Linked DNA regions of Homo sapiens: regions 2 and 3 are each linked to region 1. Evidence: fine-mapped expression QTL. A gene starts in region 1. Each other region holds a variant in brackets. All regions are shown on one strand. Distances are between the middles of the regions.

Region 1 (5,539 bases):
AAACAACTTAATAAATCTTACAGTTAACTGTCAATGCTATAATTCACAAATGTTTTTTATGTTTAAGAAAATTAAAAGGGCTATTTGGAGTATTTGTTACATTTAAAGGACTTAGTAAAATTCAATTCAATATCCACTGTTAAATACAAATAGTTTATTTGGCTGAAGGGAAGTTTTAATTTTTAGCAGGTAATGTATATTTTCTTATAACAGACAATAGTTCAAAGGGAAGGTTACAACAATCTGCATATTGGACATTTGAAAAAGAAATATAAACACTGTCAAAAATCAATCAAAATGACAGGAACATCATGTTTAGAAAACTTAGAGGGGGATTTTCCAAAAAATTTTTAAGGAGCTAAGTACTAGTAGCATATTTAGGTGAAAGCTTTTGTGGCTTCTAAATGAAAAGAATATATGAGATAATCATGCTAGTTTTCTATGTTTACAAAACACACAGAAGATATATATCACAAACTTTACCCAGAGTAATATTATATTCCATGTCATAATTTGGTTTATTTTCAATCACAAGAATAAAACATCTATTAGTAAGAATCATACATTCCAAGCCTTCAAAACCAGAAAATCCCACTATAATTTTTAGTTTCTAAACTCTGTTTATTTGAAGAACTTCAAGATCGTGTAAAATATTACAATTATTTGAAGAACACTTTTTTAAAAGTTAAGCTAAAACAGCATCGGTCTTAGAAGTAAATACAATTTGCAAAAAGGCATACAAAATTTCCTATCTTTTCAGTCTATCTTTTCAAGCCTAACCACCTAGAAATAGGCTACTTTACCTATAATTGAATAGAATAAAGTGTCTTTAAAGATGCAAATATGTTCAGTATTTGAGAATAGCTATCTTAAAAAAAATAAGTTATTCTGATAACCAGGTTGCAATAGGACAAGTCATGGTAACCTTCCATTTTTAAGATTCAGTTACAAAAGGCAATTTTATATCCTATTATTCCAAAGGGTTTGAGGCTTTATTTCTTCTTCCTCATATGTATGATGATTTCTGGATGTTTTAGTATAGGGCATCACACTGGTGCAGCACACTTGGGCTTACAGTGCAGCCCAAGGCATTTGCAGCAAGTATTTCCCACTAGGAATGTAAGGAGCTAGGAGGTTACAAGGCTTGAGGAAACAATCTAGAAAACCACAATACAGCTTGTTGGTCCTTTCCCCACAAATAACCTTTTTAAACCAGACCCATAAAATGCAGTTTATTATCTAACATTTTTAAGGAGAATCTTTTGTTAAATGTTAACAAAAGAACGACTATCCAAATTCCCTTTAAAATGCAATCCTTAAAAAATATTGAACTCTCAAGTCTTTTTGGAAAGTGCTTAAATCATCTGGAGATAAATATCATTTGGTGTCCTTGTTTTCTAACAAATGGCTTTTTCTATTGTTTCCATTAATTTCACCCATATTCGTTTTTTTAAAAACAAGGCCCTTATCCTCATCAGCAAAACACAGATGTATGATTTAGCATATAAAATCGGTAATTACATACTAATTTACGAAAGATTTTTTTTTCTCCTTTTCGTCAGTTTTCAAGAAGTCTTCCCGTGATTAACTGTAAACAGGAATGGTTTACATCTCAAATTAGAAGCCATTAATTAGCATGACGAAGTCAACTGCAAGATACACAGATTATTTAAATTATTTAATCACTATTCACCTTGGCTAAACTGTAGTATACTCTTTCAATATCCTTAGGCAGGTTATCGATCTGTCACTAAATTACCTCCAGATCAGTTAGACATGAATATTAGCGTCCTTTCCTTTCCCTCAGGTTTACATTCTCCCTTCTCGTAAACACTTAAAAAAGCTTTAAGGTTCTTTAATTCCAAATACCTAATTAGCCATCACTAGCCTTTTTGTAATAAGGAAAAAGAGTATCTGAAGTACAAATCAAGAGTTCGCTTTGCCCGTTTAACAATAAAAAACATTTAAAAAACGTACGCCAAAGGCAATGGCAGTAATAAAAGAAATATGCAGAGGTGGCTTCAGCAAATAACGGGTTTGCAAAACGCAAGTGCTTAACAAAAAGCAGCCCAAACCTCTATTGCAATATACAGCACTCCAATAAATTACACAACACTTGCATAGGCTGCAGAAATAACGCAGGACAAGACTTACACAGATGCCAATCCGCAGCATTTATACACATGCACATGGCAAGAGACAGAAACCAAACACTATCATTCAACTCGGGAAGGGTAGCGCGATCCCGAGCTTGCCCAGCGTGAGAGTGCTCTCTGCGTGTGTGTCTGTGTACGCGCGTGAGTGAGACCCATCCTTGGGGCATTTCCCCTCTCTGGGCAGTTTTGCTTCATTTGTTTCATATTTCTGCTACATAGAAACTAACTTCCATCTCAGCTCCAGCCAGCGCCGCTGAATAGAGCCTGTGCTGCGGCTCCGTGTGCGTCAGATCCCTCCGCGGAACCGTCCCCGGCCCCCTCCCTGCCACTATCGGCCTCCACAGAGAAAGCGCCTTCCAGCCAACCGGCGGCTTGGGCTCCGACATCTTCTCCGACTGGAAATAAATAAATAAATCGCACGCCCTGCGGGGAGGAGCGGGTGGGGGTCTCACTGTGCCGCGTGCGGAGCGCTGGGGACGAGGGGTCGGAGGCACTCCTTTTTTAGCGCCGGGGGGCGGGGGCGCGGGCCAGAGCCGGGGCCGAGCCCTGGGCCGCGAAGGCGGCGGACTCCTTTCTGCGGCGGAGGGATCCGCGGCGGAGGCGGCCACGGCCGTAGTCGCTGCCTGAGAGTTGTTGTTTCCTCCTCCTCCTCCTCCGCCTCCGCCGCCGTTGCTTGAATGGTGGAGCCGAAGCTCGGCTCGTGAACACACACTGACAGCTATAGGGCAGGCGGCGGCACCGTCCCCGCTTCCCCTCGGCGGCGGGGTGTCCCGTCGGCGGCCCTGAAGTGACCCATAAACATGTCTTGTGAGAGGAAAGGCCTCTCGGAGCTGCGATCGGGTAAGTCGGGGGGCTGCCGGGGCCGCTGGCACCGGGCGATTCCGCCCGCGGTCCCCCGCCCCCCGCCGCCCGACCGCTCAGCCTGTGTGTCTCCCCGTCCCTCTCTCCCGCGCAGAGCTCTACTTCCTCATCGCCCGGTTCCTGGAAGATGGACCCTGTCAGCAGGCGGCTCAGGTACGGCGGCGCGCGGCGCGGGCCGGGCCGGCGCTCGCCGCTCGCGGGCGTGGGGGAGGGAGGCGGCGGCGGCGGGGCCGCGGCCCGGGGCGCGGGGCTCAGCTCTCCCCGCTTTGTTGTTGCAGGTGCTGATCCGCGAGGTGGCCGAGAAGGAGGTAAGGGCGGCGGCGGCCCGGCGCGTCCCGCCGCCGCGCGGCCGCCTCTGGGCCGCTGCGCCGCCGCTGCCGCCGCCGGCAGGGCGCGGGGCGCGGGGCTCGGGGTCCCCGCCGGGGCGCGGGGCGGGCGGGGGAGGGGAGCGGGCGGGTAGGGGCCGGGGGCCGGGCTCACGGGGTGTCCTCTCCCCGCAGCTGCTGCCCCGGCGCACCGACTGGACCGGGAAGGAGCATCCCAGGACCTACCAGAATCTGGTGAGACATTCACGTCGCAGAGCAAAGAAACTTTTCCCTGAGTCGAATAAAAATTGAATTTCCCGCAATTTTTTACAGAGACAAAAACTTGGCCCTAGAACGTGAAAGCTCCAAAGGCCATGGGGAGGGTTGGGAGGCCGGCGCGGGGTCTGCGGGGGCCAGTGGCCGGGGGTACTCGTACTTCGGGGCCGCAGGGGCTGCGGACAATTTATTTGTGATATTTTGTTAATGTGCTAGAAATAAAGATACGTCATGAGTGTTGTGCAGTGCAAGGCCGGAGGAGGAGGGGCCGGCGCGCGCGTCCGTGCGGGCGCGGGGGCGCGCGAGAGTCGGCGGCGGCGGGAGCGGCGCGAAGAGGGAGAGCGCGCTCGCTCGTTCGCTTGCTCGCTCTGCACGCGCGGCCGGCTCGGCTTTCTCCTGCCCTACACAATAGCTGGTGACTAACTGCTCCGAAGTGGCATTAGCATTTCACAAGCAGGCTATCCAGCCGCTGCGGTACCGTGGCAAGACATTATTTTTTCCCCCTCTGTCGTTTATTTTGTTTTCCTTAAATTCAGTCCTGGGTTTTTTGTTGGAAGGATTCTGATGTGTGATGATAGTTGGTCAGTGCTTCGTCTTGCATTTACTAAAACACATCTTTGCAGAAGTGTAAAGCCTGTAATTCCCTAAAACCAGAAGTTTAGTAGGCTTTTTTTAATTCTTATGGTATGCCTCTCGTTTAATTAAAAATTATTATTGGAGTACACTGAAGAGTTTTGATTTTTGTCCACATATTTACTGTGGGATGGAACTTGGCCTATGAAAGTTGTGTTTATATTGGGACATATTTTGTTTAATAGCTTAAAAACCTTAATTTTGTGGGTTGTCAAAATGAGTATTTTAGGAATCTTTAAAAATTGCTTTTCAGAAGTGGATTTATCACTTCAGTATTGTGATTGGAAGTTACTTTAAAGGAGCTATATTTTCTGTAACACTTTCTCCTAAACTGATACAGGTTCGTTGTGTGAATATGTGTGTGGGGCAGTTAAAGCAGTCGCACCGGACCCACCAAGCCTTTGAAATTTATGTAGTGTGTTGATTTTATGAGGCTTTTGTAACTGTTTTGAGATAGTTATGATTACTAATGTTACTTCATCAGAACTTCTCTAATGACTAGGAAGTTTCAGCGAGCTTAGAATGAGTGTCTTTTGTGAGGTGAAAGCAGGACATGATTATAATGGCGCTTTTTTTGGTATGTAGTGTATTTCCTAACTTTTGTGTATAAATCTCTTGTGGTTTAATATAAGATGTTGATAACCGCTCAAGGCTGTTGAAATAAGCAAGGGTACTGAGGTTTAATACATCTAATGGAGATTTAACAGTGTATTAGTGTATTCATTTTCACACTGAACGTGTGTTAATTTTCAAGGAGTGATTTGGGTTACTTTCATTCAATTCTTGGCCAAAGTGAATGGAGCTGGAAGTAAACTCCAAGATTTACTAATTTGAAATTAATTTTTAGGTTTACAAATACTTGATAGAAGTCTTCAGTGAATTTACATGTCTTCCTTGATATTTGAAAAAATTATCGCAAAGATTATAATACTCCATTTTTAAGATGGGGCAGGTTTTACAAAACTCGTCTTTGCATCTGCTTTTACATCTGTGCATCTCTTAAAAACCCACAAACCTTAAGTCACTGAGGAATGCTGCATTTTCTTAATCTTTTGGTAATGTTACATTTTTTAAATGAAGCAGCTTAATGTTATCTGGCTAAATTATGGTAATGGCTAATCCTCGTAGGAATATCATTTTGTTTTTTTGTTTTTTTTTTCAGTAAAAATGAGCTATCAATTTTGATTTTGAGTTAATTTAATTTTTGGGGGGAGGGTGGGGGGAGGAATTATTAGTAAAGTGAATTTCTATCCCTAGTCTGCATCGCAGATTTAAGATACAGTAAGCATTCTTTCTATCTATGTATTA
Region 2 (5,539 bases), 53 kb before region 1:
TTATTAAGCTAATCATGGAGGCAACAGAGAAAGGCAAGGTCCAGTGTAAGGAAATCCAAAAAATGATACAAGAAGTGAAGGGAGAAATATTTAATGAAATAGATAATGGACAAACTTATAGAAATGCAAAATGCTCTGGAAAGTCTCAGCAATAGCATCGAACAAGCAGAAGAGAAAACTTCAGAGCTCAAAGACAAGGTTTTTGAATTAACCCAATCTGACAAAGAAAAAAGAATAAGAAAATATGAACCAAGCCTCCAAGAAATCTGGGATTAGGTTAAACAACCAAACTTAAGAATAATCAACATTCCTGAGGAAGAGAAGAAACCTAAAAGTTTGGAAAATATGTTTGGGGGAGTAATTGAGGAAAACTTTCCCAGCCTTGCTAGAGAACTAGATATCCAAATACAAGAAGCTGAAAGAACTCCTGGGAAATTCATCGCAAAAAGGTAATCACCTAGGCACATTGTCATCAGGTTATCTAAAGTTAAGACAAAGGAAAGAATCTTAAAAGCTATGAGGCAAAAATGCCAGGTAACCTAAAAAAGAAAACCTATCAGATTAACAGCAGATTTCTCAGCAGAATCCTACAAGCTAGAAGAAATTGGGACCCTATCTTCAGCCTCCTCAAATGAAACAATTATCAGCAAAGAGTTTTATTTCCAGCGAAACTAAGCTTCACAAATGAAGGAAAGATACAGTTGTTTTCAGACAAAAAAATGCTGAGAGAATTCACCACCACCAAGCCAGCACTATAAGAACTGCTAAAAGGAGCTCTAAATCTTGAAACAAATCCTGGAAATGCATAAAAACAGAACCTCTTTAAAGTATAAATCTAACAGGACCTATAAAACAAAAATGCAATTTAAAAAAAGGTACAGGCAACAAATAGCACAATGAATGGAATGGTAGCTCACATCTCAATACTAATATTGAACATAAATGGCTTAAATGTTCCACTTAAAAGATACAAATTGCAGAATGGATGAGAATTCACCAACCAACGATCTGCTGCCTTCAAGAGACACAACTAACACATAAGGATTCACGTAAACTTAAGGTAAAGGGATGGAAAAAGTCATTCCATGCAAATGGACACCAAAAGCGACCAGAAGTAGCTATTCCTATATCAGACAAAACATGTTTTTTTTTATTATACTATAAGTTCTGGGACACATGTGCAGAATGTGCAGGTTTGTTACATAAGTATACATGTGCCATGGTGCTTTGCTGCACCCATCAACCTGTCATCTACATTAGCTATTTCTCCTAATGCTATCCCTCCCCTTGCTTCCCACCCCCAGGCAGGCCCCGATGTGTGATGTTCCCCTCCCTGTGTCCATGTGTTTTCATTGTTCAACTCCCACTTATGAGTGAGAACATGCGGTGTTTGGTTTTCTGTTCCTGTGTTAGCAGATAAAACAAATTTTAAAGCAACAGCAGTTAAAAAAGACAAGGAGGGACATTATATAATAATAAAAGGCCTTGTCCGACAGGAAAATATTACAATCCTAAATATATATGCACCTAACACTGGAGGTCCCAAATTTATAAAACAATTACTAAGAGACCTAAGAAATGAGATAGACAGAAACACAATAATAGTGGGAGACTTCAATCCTCCACTGATGGCATGAGACAGTTCATCAAGACAGAAAGTCAACAAAGAAACAATTGATTTAAACTATACCCTGTAGTAAATGGACTTACCAGATATTTACAGAACATTCTACCCAACAAACACATAATATACATTCTATTCAACAGTGCATGGAACTTTCTCCAAGATGGACCATATAATAGGCCACAAAAGAAGTCTCAATAAATTTATGAAAATTGAAATTATATCAAGCACTCTCTCAGACCACAGTGGAATAAAACTGGAAATCAACTCCACAAGGAACCTTCAAAACCATGCAAATACATGGAAATTAAATAACCTGCTCCTGAATGATCATTGGCTCAAAAACGAAATCACGATGGAAATTTAAAAGTTCTTCAAACTGAACGACAATCATGATACAACCTGTCAAAACCTCTGGAATACAGCAAAGACGGGGCTAAGAGGAAAGTTCATAGCCCTAGATGCCTACATCGAAAAGCCTGAAAGAGCTCAGACAATCTAAGGTCACACCTTAAGGAACTAGAGAAACAAGAACAAGCCAAACCCAAACCAAGCAGAAAAAAGGAAATGACCAAGATCAGAGCAGAACTAAATGAAACTAAAACAAACAAACAAAAATACAAAATGAAAAAAAGGTGGTTCTTTGAAAAGATAAATAAGATTGACAGACCATTAGCAAGACTAACCAAGAAAAGGGAGAAAATCCAAATAAGCTCAATTAGAAATGAAACGGATGATATTACAGCTGACACCACAGAAATACAAAAGATTATTCAAGGCTACTATGAACACCATTATGAACATAAACTAGAAAACCTAGAGGAGATGGACAAATTCCTCAAAAAAATACAACCTTCCTTGCTTAAATCAGGAAGAATTAGATACCCTGAACAGACAAATAACAAGCAGTGAGATTGAAACGGTAATAAAAAAAATTACCAACAAAAAAAATCCAGGACCAGATGGATTCACAGCAGAATTCTACCAGACATTCCAAGAATTGGTACCAATCCTATTGACACTATTCCACAAGATAAAGAGGGAATCCTCCCCAAATTATTCTACGAAGCCAGTATCACCCTAATACCAAAACCAGGAAAGGACATAACCAAAAAGGAAAACTACAGACCAATATCCCTAATAACATAAATGCTAAAATCCTTAACAAAATGCTAGCTAACCAAATCCAACACATATCAAAAAGATAATCCACCATGATCAAGTGGGTTTCATACCAGGGATGCAGGGATGGTTTAACATATGCAAGTCAATAAATGTGATACACCACATAAACAGAATCAAAAACAAAAATCAC[G/A]TGATCATCTCAATAGCTGCAGAAAAAGCATTCAACAAAACCCAGCATGGCTTTATGATTAAAACTCTCAGCAAAATTGACATACAAGGGACATACCTCAATATAATAAAAGCCATCTATGACAAACCCAAAGTCAACATCATACTGAATGGGGAAAAGTTGAAATCATTCCCTCTGAGAACTGGAACAAGACAAGGATGCCCACTCTCACCACTTCTCTTCAACATAGTACTGGAAGTCCTAGCCAGAGCAATCAGACAAGAGAAATAAAGGGCATCCAAATGGGTAAAGAGGAAGTCAAACTGTCGCTGTTTGCAGATGATACAATTGTTTACCTAGAAGGTCCTAAAGAATCCTCCAGAAAGCTCCGAGAACTGATAAAAGAATTCAGCAAAGTTTCTGGATACAAAATTAATGTACATAAATCAGTAGCTCCTCTATACACCAACAGTGACCAAGCTGAGAATCAAATCAAGAACTCAATGTCTTTTACAATAGCTGCAATAAATAAAATATTTAGGAATATACCTAACCAAGGAGGTGAAAGACCTCTACAAGGAAAACTAAGAAACACTGCTGAAAGAAATCATCCCATGCTCATGAATGGGTAGAATCAATATTGTGAAAATGAACATACTGCTAAAAGCAATCTACAAACTCAATGCAATTCCCATCAAAATACCACCATCATTCTTCACAGAATTAGAAAAAACAATTCTAAAATTCATACAGAACCAAAAAAGCCCACAGAACCAAAACTAGACTAAGGAAAAAGAACAAATCTGGAGTCATTACATTATCTGATGTCAAACTGTACCGTAAGGTCATAGTCACTGAAAAGTATGGTACTGCTATAAAAATAGGCACATAGACCAATGGAACAGAATAGAGAACCCAGAAATAAACCCTAATACTTACAGCCAACTGATCTTAGACAAAGCAAACAAAAACATAAAATGGGGAAAGGACACTCTATTCAACAAATGGTGCTGGAATACTTGGCAAGCCACATGTGGGAGAATGAAACTGGATCTTCATCTCTCACCTTATACAAAAATCAACTCAAGATGGATCAAGAACTTAAATCTAAGACCTGAAACTATAAAAATTCAAGAAGATAACATTGGAAAAACCCTTCTAGACATTGGCTTAGGCAAGTTTTCATGACCAGGAACCCAAAAACAAAAGCAATAAATACAAAGATAAATAGCTGTGACTTAATTAAACTAAAGAGCTTTGCACGGCAAAAGGAACAGTTAGCAGAGAAAACACACAACCCACAGAGTGGGAGAAAATCTTCACAATCTATACATCCAACAAAGGACTAATATATCCAGAATCTATAACAAGTTCAAACAAATTAGCAAGAAAAAAAGCAAACAATCCCATTAAAAAGTGGACTAAGGACATGAATAGACATTTCTTGAAAGAAGATATATTAATGGCCAAAAAACATATGAAAAAATGCTCAGCATCACTAATGATCAGGGAAATGCAAGTCAAAACCACAATGCGATACCACCTTATTCCTGCAAGAATGGCCATAATAAAAAAATAAAGAAATAATAGATGTTGATGTGGATGCAGTCCACAGGGAACACTTCTACACTGCTGGTGGGAATGTAAACTAGTACAACCACTATGGAAAACAGTGTGAAGATTCCTTAAAGAGCTAAAAGTAGAACTACCATTTGATCCAGCAATCCCATTACTGGGTATCCGCCCAGAGGAAAAGAAGTCATTATATGAAAAAGATACTTGCACACACATGTTTATAGCAGCATAATTTGCAATCACAAAAATGTGGAACCAACCCAAATGCCCATCAGTCAATAAGTGGATAAAGAAACTGTGAGATAGATAGATATATATATATATATATATATATATATATATATATATATATATATATATATATATAAAATAAAATACTACTCAGCCATAAAAAGGAGTGAATTAATGACCTGGATGAGATTGGAAACTATTATGGTAAGTAAAGTACCTCAGGAATAGAAAACCAAATATCGTATCTTCTTACTCATAAGTGGGAGCTAAGCTATCAGGATGCAAAGGCATAAGAATGACACAATGGACTTTGGGGACTCGGGGGAAAGCATGGGAAGGGACTGAGGGATAAAAGACTACAAATTGGGTGACATGTATACTGCTCAGGTGACGGGTGCACCAAAATCTCACAAATCACCACTAAAGAACTTACTCATGTAACCAAACACTGCCTGTTGCCCAATAACCCATGGAAATCTTTAAAAAAATAAAATAAAAATAAAAAGAATGTTGAATATTGACCCCTAATTGCTTCTGGCTTGTAGGTTTTCTGCTAAGAGGTCTGCTATTAGTCTGATGAGCTTCCCTTTGTAGGTGTCCTGACCTTTCTCTCTAGCTGCCTTTAACATTTTTTCTTTCCTTTGGACCTTGGAGAATTTCATGATTATGTGTCTTAGGGATGATCTTCTTGTGAAGTATCTTGCTGGGGTTCTCTGCATTTCCTGAATTTGAATGTTGGCCTTGCTAGCTAGGTTAGGGAGGTTCTCATGCATGGTATCCTGAAGTACATTTTCCAAGTTGGTTTCATTCTCCCC
Region 3 (5,539 bases), 290 kb after region 1:
GGATCCTCCCACCTCAGCCTCTTGAGTAACTAAGACTACAGGTGTGCGTCACCACACCTGGCTGATATTTTTTTAACTTTTAAGTTCAAGGGTACAAGTGAAAGTCTGTTACTTAGGTAAACTTGTGTCATGGGGGATTGTTGTACAGATTTTTTCGTCATCCAGGTATTAAGCCTACTACCCTTTAGTTATTTTTCCAAATCCTCTCCCTCCTCCCACTGTCCACACTCAAGTAGGCCCCAGTATCTCCTCCATGTGCCCATGTGTTCTCCTTATTTAGCTCCCACTTATAAGTGAGACAATGTGATATTTGTTTTTCCATTCTTGTGTTAGTTTGCTAAGGATAATGGCCTCCAGCTCCATCCATGTTCCTGCAAAGAGCATGATCTTGTTATTTTTTATGGCAGCATGGTATTCCATGGTGTATATATACCATATTTTCTTTATCCAGTCTCTCACTGATGGACATTTAGGTTGATTGCACATCTTTGCTATTGTGAATAGTGTTGCAATGAGCATATATGTGCATGTGTCTTTATAATATATATAAATAAATATAATATTTATATTCCTTTGGGTATATACCCATTAATGGGATTGCTGGGTCAAATCGTATTTCTGTCTTTAGGTCTTTGTGGAATTGCCACACTGTCTTCCACAATGGCTGAACTAATTTACACTCCCACTAACAGTATATAAGTGTTCCTTTTTCTCCCAAACCTTGCCAGCTTCTGTTACTTTTTGACTTTTAATTAATAGTCACTATGGCTGATGTGAGATAGTATCTCATTGTGGTTTTGATTTGCATTTCTTTAATGATCAGTAATATTGAGCTTTTTTTCATATGGTTGTTGGCCACAAGTATGTCTTTTTATGAAAAGTGTCTGTTTATGTCCTTTGCTTACTTTTTATGGTGTTGTTTCTTTCTTATACATTTGTTTAAGTTCCTCATAGATGCTGTATATTAGACTTTTCTTGGATGCATGGTTTGCAAAAATTTTCTCCCATTTTGTAGGCTGTCTGTTTACTCTGTGGATAGTTTCTTTTGATGTTCAGAAGCTCTTTAGTTTCATTAAATCCCATGTGTCAATTTTTGTTTTTGTTGCAATTGTTTTGGCATCTTTGACATGAAATCTTTCTCTGTGCCTATATCCTGAATGTTATTGCCTAGGTTATCTTCCAGAGTTTTTATACTTTTGGGTTTTACATTTAAGTCTTTAATTCATCTTGAGTTAATTTTCATATAGGTGTTAGGAAGGGGACCAGTTTCAACCTCTGCCTATGGCTAGCCAGTTTTCCCAACACCATTTATTGAGTAGGGAATCCTTTCCCCATTGCTTGTTTTTGTAAGATTTGTCAAAGATCAGATAATAGTTGGTGTATGGTCTTATTTCTGGGTTCTCTATTCTGTTCCATTTGTCTATGTGTCTGTTTTTGTACCAGTATCGTGCTGCTTTTGTGACTGTAGCCCGGTACAGTAGTTTGAAGTCAGATAGTGTGATGCCTCCAGCTTTGTCCTTTTTGTTGAGGAATGCCTTGGCTATTTGGGCTCTTTTTTGGTTTCATATGAATTTTAAGATCGTTTTCTCTGGTTCTGTGAAGAATGTCGTTGGTAGTTTAATAGGAATAGCATTCAATTTATAAATTGCTTGGGGCGGTATGGCTATTTTAACAATATTGATTCTTCCTATCCATGAGCATGGAATATTTTTCCAATTGTTTATGCCATGTTTGATTTTTTTGAGTAGTGGTTTATAGTTCTCCTCATAGAGATCTTTCACCTCCATAGCTAGTTGTATTCCTAGGTATTTTCTTCTTTTTGTGGCAATTGTGAATGGGAGTTCATTCCTGATTTGGCTCTTGGCTTGACTGTTGTTTGTGTGTAGAAATGCTAGTGATTTTTGTACACTGATTTTGATATCCTGAGACTTTGCTGAAATTGTTTATCAGCAAGAAGCTTTTGGGCTGAAACTATGGGATTTTCTAGTTAATAGGATTATGTTATCTGCAAATAGGAATAGTTTGACTTTCTCTCTTCCTATTCAGATGCCCTTTTTCTCTCTCTCTCTTGCCTGGTTGTGCTGGCTAGGACTTCCAATTCTATATTGAATAGGAGTGGTGAGAGGAGTCATCCTTGTCTTGTGCTTGTTTTCAAGGGGAATGATTCCAGCTTTCCCCAGCTAATTAATTTTTTTTTTCTCAGAGATTAGGTCTAATTATGTTTCCCAGGCTGGTCTCCAACTCCTGGCCTCAAGTGATCCTCCTAACTTGGCCTTCCAAAGTGCTGGGATTACAGGTGTGAGCCACTGTGCCCTGCTCAAATCCATGAA[G/C]TTTTGAGAGTGGAGATGTACGTGACTTTCTTATCAGAAAGCTAAGACCTGTTCCATGTCTGAGTCTCACTGCTCATAATTTCTTTGAGTCATTTGCTGACATGATCCTGCTCACACCCAGAGAAAGCTGGGTGGCACTGTGGAAGGAATCATGGAGTGAGAGCCCAGAAACATAAGGTGTAGACTGTCTGGGCCCTGTGAGCAACTGGTGATAGCCCAGATGCTGGACTTCCCTGCTTTATTTTATCTGTAAAACAATCTTAATAGTATCTACTTGTGTTAACTTCCAATGGCTGATGTAACAAATTACTACACACTTTAAAACACGAATTTATTATCTTATGGTTTTGTAGGTCAGAAATCCAACACAAGTTGCTTGGGGCTAAAATCAAGGTGCCCACCAGGCTGTGTTACTTTCTGGTTGTACTAGGAGAAAATCTGTTTCCTTGTCTTTTCCAGCTTCTAGAGCCTGCTCACATTCACTGATTTGGGGTCTCATTCCTCCATCTTCAAAGCTAGCAATGTAGCTTTGATGATACTTTTGTTGTTATATGTTTTTCTCTGACACTCCCTCTTCTGCTTCCCCCTTTTTTGAATGATCCTTGTGATTACACTGGACCCATTGGATAATCCAAGATAATCTCTCTATTTTAAGGTCAGCTGATTAACAACTTCAATTTCCTCTGCAACCTTAGTTTCCCTTTACCATGTAACCTAACATATTCATAGGTTCTGAGATTAGAATGTGAACATTTTGGGGAGCCATTGTTATGCCTTGAAAGTGGCTATGCCCACTTTAGTTGGTAAAGGAATCAAATATAAAGGTACATCATCATTATGAATTACCATAATGATAGAATATACTATTGGCTGGGTAAAGTATTTTCATGTGCTTCAAGATAACTTAAAAACTCATTGCAATCAACATTTGATATGCCCCGGTTTTTGTTTTAACGTTAGCCATTTGGGGGATATTCAGTAGTATGTCATTATGATTTTAATTTGCACTTTCCTGAAGACTAATGGGAATAAACACCTTTAAATGTGTTTCTTGTCCATTTATGTATCTCATATTGTGAAAGGTATATCTAAACCTTTTATTCATTTGAAAATTGCATTTTGTCTGCATTGTGTTGTATGAGTTTGTGGTGAAGTTGCTATTGTGTCACCTTAACTAAACTGGAACTACTTTTTTCTGGGATGTCCCTCTCTGGTTGTTTTGAGCCTGAAAATTTGTGCAGGATTTAGAATGCAGACATAAAGCAGCAACTATCTTCTTTTTATTCATGGAAAGCTGGAGCAAGGCAGGTGGCACTGTTGCAGCTCACACACACTGTTGCTAATTTGCTGGTCACCCTGTGAGCATGAGGTGGCATCTGAGTTCATAGCTCCTCCAGCCAGACTTCCTCTTTACATTGTGCTGAATCCTGGGCCAGGTACATACTTATCTCCTGTAGTCAGTTGAATTTGTGTCTCCCCAAAAATATATGTTGGGATACTAGCCTTCAGTACCCCGGAATGTAACCTTATTTAGAGATAGAGTCTTTGTAGAGACAAAGGTAATCAAGTTAAAATGAGTCATTAGAGTGGGCCCTAATCCAAATACAGTGGTGTCCTTTTGAGAAGGGACAATGTGAACACAGAGACACACACATTCACAGAGAATGCCATGTGAAGATGAAGGAAGAGATTAGGGTGATGTAGCAGATACCAAGGAATGCCAAAGATTGCCAGCAAACCACCAGAAGCTAAACAAGAAGAATGGAAGAGGTTCTCCCTCACAGCTCTCAGGAGGAACCAACCCTGCTAATGTCTTCATCTGAGATTTCTAGCCTCTAGAACCAAGACAATAAATTTCTATTTTAAGCTATCCAGTTTTTATCGTGTTGCTCTGGCAACTCTAGCAAACTAATACATCTCCCTAATCATTGAAGTTGGAAGCTTGATTGAAGTTGGTGAGAGATTGGTACAGTCTGTCCTTGGAGATTTCAGCCCATCCTTATAGGTGAGTTTCTTCTTGCTTCTCTCACATTGCATTTAATTTCTCTTCCTGACTGCTTTATTAGCAGATCTCAGACTCTAGTATCAGATGTACAGACAACAGTTTCACAGAGACAGTCTCCCATAAATGTATGAGATCAAATCCATATAATGAAATATGTTTATATACATATATATATATATATATATATATATATATATATATATATATATATATACATACACATATGTATGGGACTCTTAGTGGTTCTGTTTCATTAATCAAGCCCTGATTGATACAGAACTCTTTGTATATCTTTAATACTAGTCAGATACATGTTTTGGAAAGATTTACCTCCCAATCTGTGGATCACCTTTTCATTTTCATAATGGTGTTTTTGAATAGTTATAGTTTTTAATTTTGATGAAGTAAAATTTATTAAAGTTTATATATATATATACACACACACACATATTTTGGCCTAGTGTAAACAAATCTTTACTCCACACTCATGAAGATATTCACCCGCCTCCCCCTTTTTTTTTTTAGCATGGTAAGAGGTAGTGGTCAAGATTCTTCTTTTTTTCTTATGGAGATTCAGTTGTTCCAGACCATTTATTAACATTATCTTTCTTTCTTAAATTGCCTTAGTATTTTTGTTGAAAACCAATTGACCATGTATAGGTGGGCTTATGGCTGGACCTCATCTTGTTCCATTGATTTACTTCTCTATTCTTGGCCAAAGATCACATTGTAAAAACCGCTATAGCTTTATAGTAAATCTTGAAATCAGGGAGTGTAAATCCTACAACTTTGTTGTTTTTCAAAATTGTTTTGTCTATTCTAAATTCTTTGAATTTGTATATAAATTGTAAACTGAGTTCAACAGTTAAAATGGATTTTTTTGGGATTTTGGTTAGGATTGAATTGGATATACAGATTAATTTGGGGGAATTATTGATAGTTTAATAATGTTGAATCTTCAAATACATGACCAGAGCATATATATTTAAATTGTCTTCATTTATTTAGATCTTCTTTAAATGTTCTTGAGAAATGGTTTTTAGTTTTCAGTGTTTTCATTACATTTATTATTGTTTTTAGGCTACTGTAAATAGCATTTTAAAATATCATTTTCTTAGGAACGCTTTTACAATGTTGGTGGGAGTGTAAATTGGTTCAACCATTGTGGAAGACAGTGTGGCAATTCCTCAAGGACTCAGGAGCA

The links. PIP is the estimated chance that this variant, and not a neighbour inherited with it, causes the effect. A credible set is the group of variants that fine-mapping cannot tell apart.
Region 2: its variant is the best candidate, but not a certain one, in a credible set for the expression of PHIP in lung (TOPMed, PIP 0.56).
Region 3: its variant is the best candidate, but not a certain one, in a credible set for the expression of PHIP in esophagus mucosa (GTEx, PIP 0.69).

What each region holds. Positions count from the first base shown.
Region 1 is chr6:79,075,486-79,081,024 of GRCh38, reverse strand. PHIP (PHIP subunit of CUL4-Ring ligase complex) reads left to right here and starts at 2,771. Exons shown (of 40, transcript NM_017934.7): 1 at 2,771-2,996; 2 at 3,112-3,170; 3 at 3,296-3,325; 4 at 3,518-3,577. The coding sequence starts at 2,957. LOC124901346 (a long non-coding RNA gene) reads right to left here. Exons shown (of 2, transcript XR_007059652.1): 2 at 3,759-5,539. RefSeq lists an enhancer at 2,344-2,393 and silencers at 2,514-2,753, 2,884-3,053, 3,553-4,052.
Region 2 is chr6:79,128,820-79,134,358 of GRCh38, reverse strand. No RefSeq gene overlaps it. Among named protein-coding and RNA genes, the nearest start is that of PHIP, 53 kb to the right of the region's middle. The variant G/A (reference allele first, on the strand shown) is at 2,940.
Region 3 is chr6:78,787,161-78,792,699 of GRCh38, reverse strand. No RefSeq gene overlaps it. Among named protein-coding and RNA genes, the nearest start is that of IRAK1BP1, 78 kb to the left of the region's middle. The variant G/C (reference allele first, on the strand shown) is at 2,331.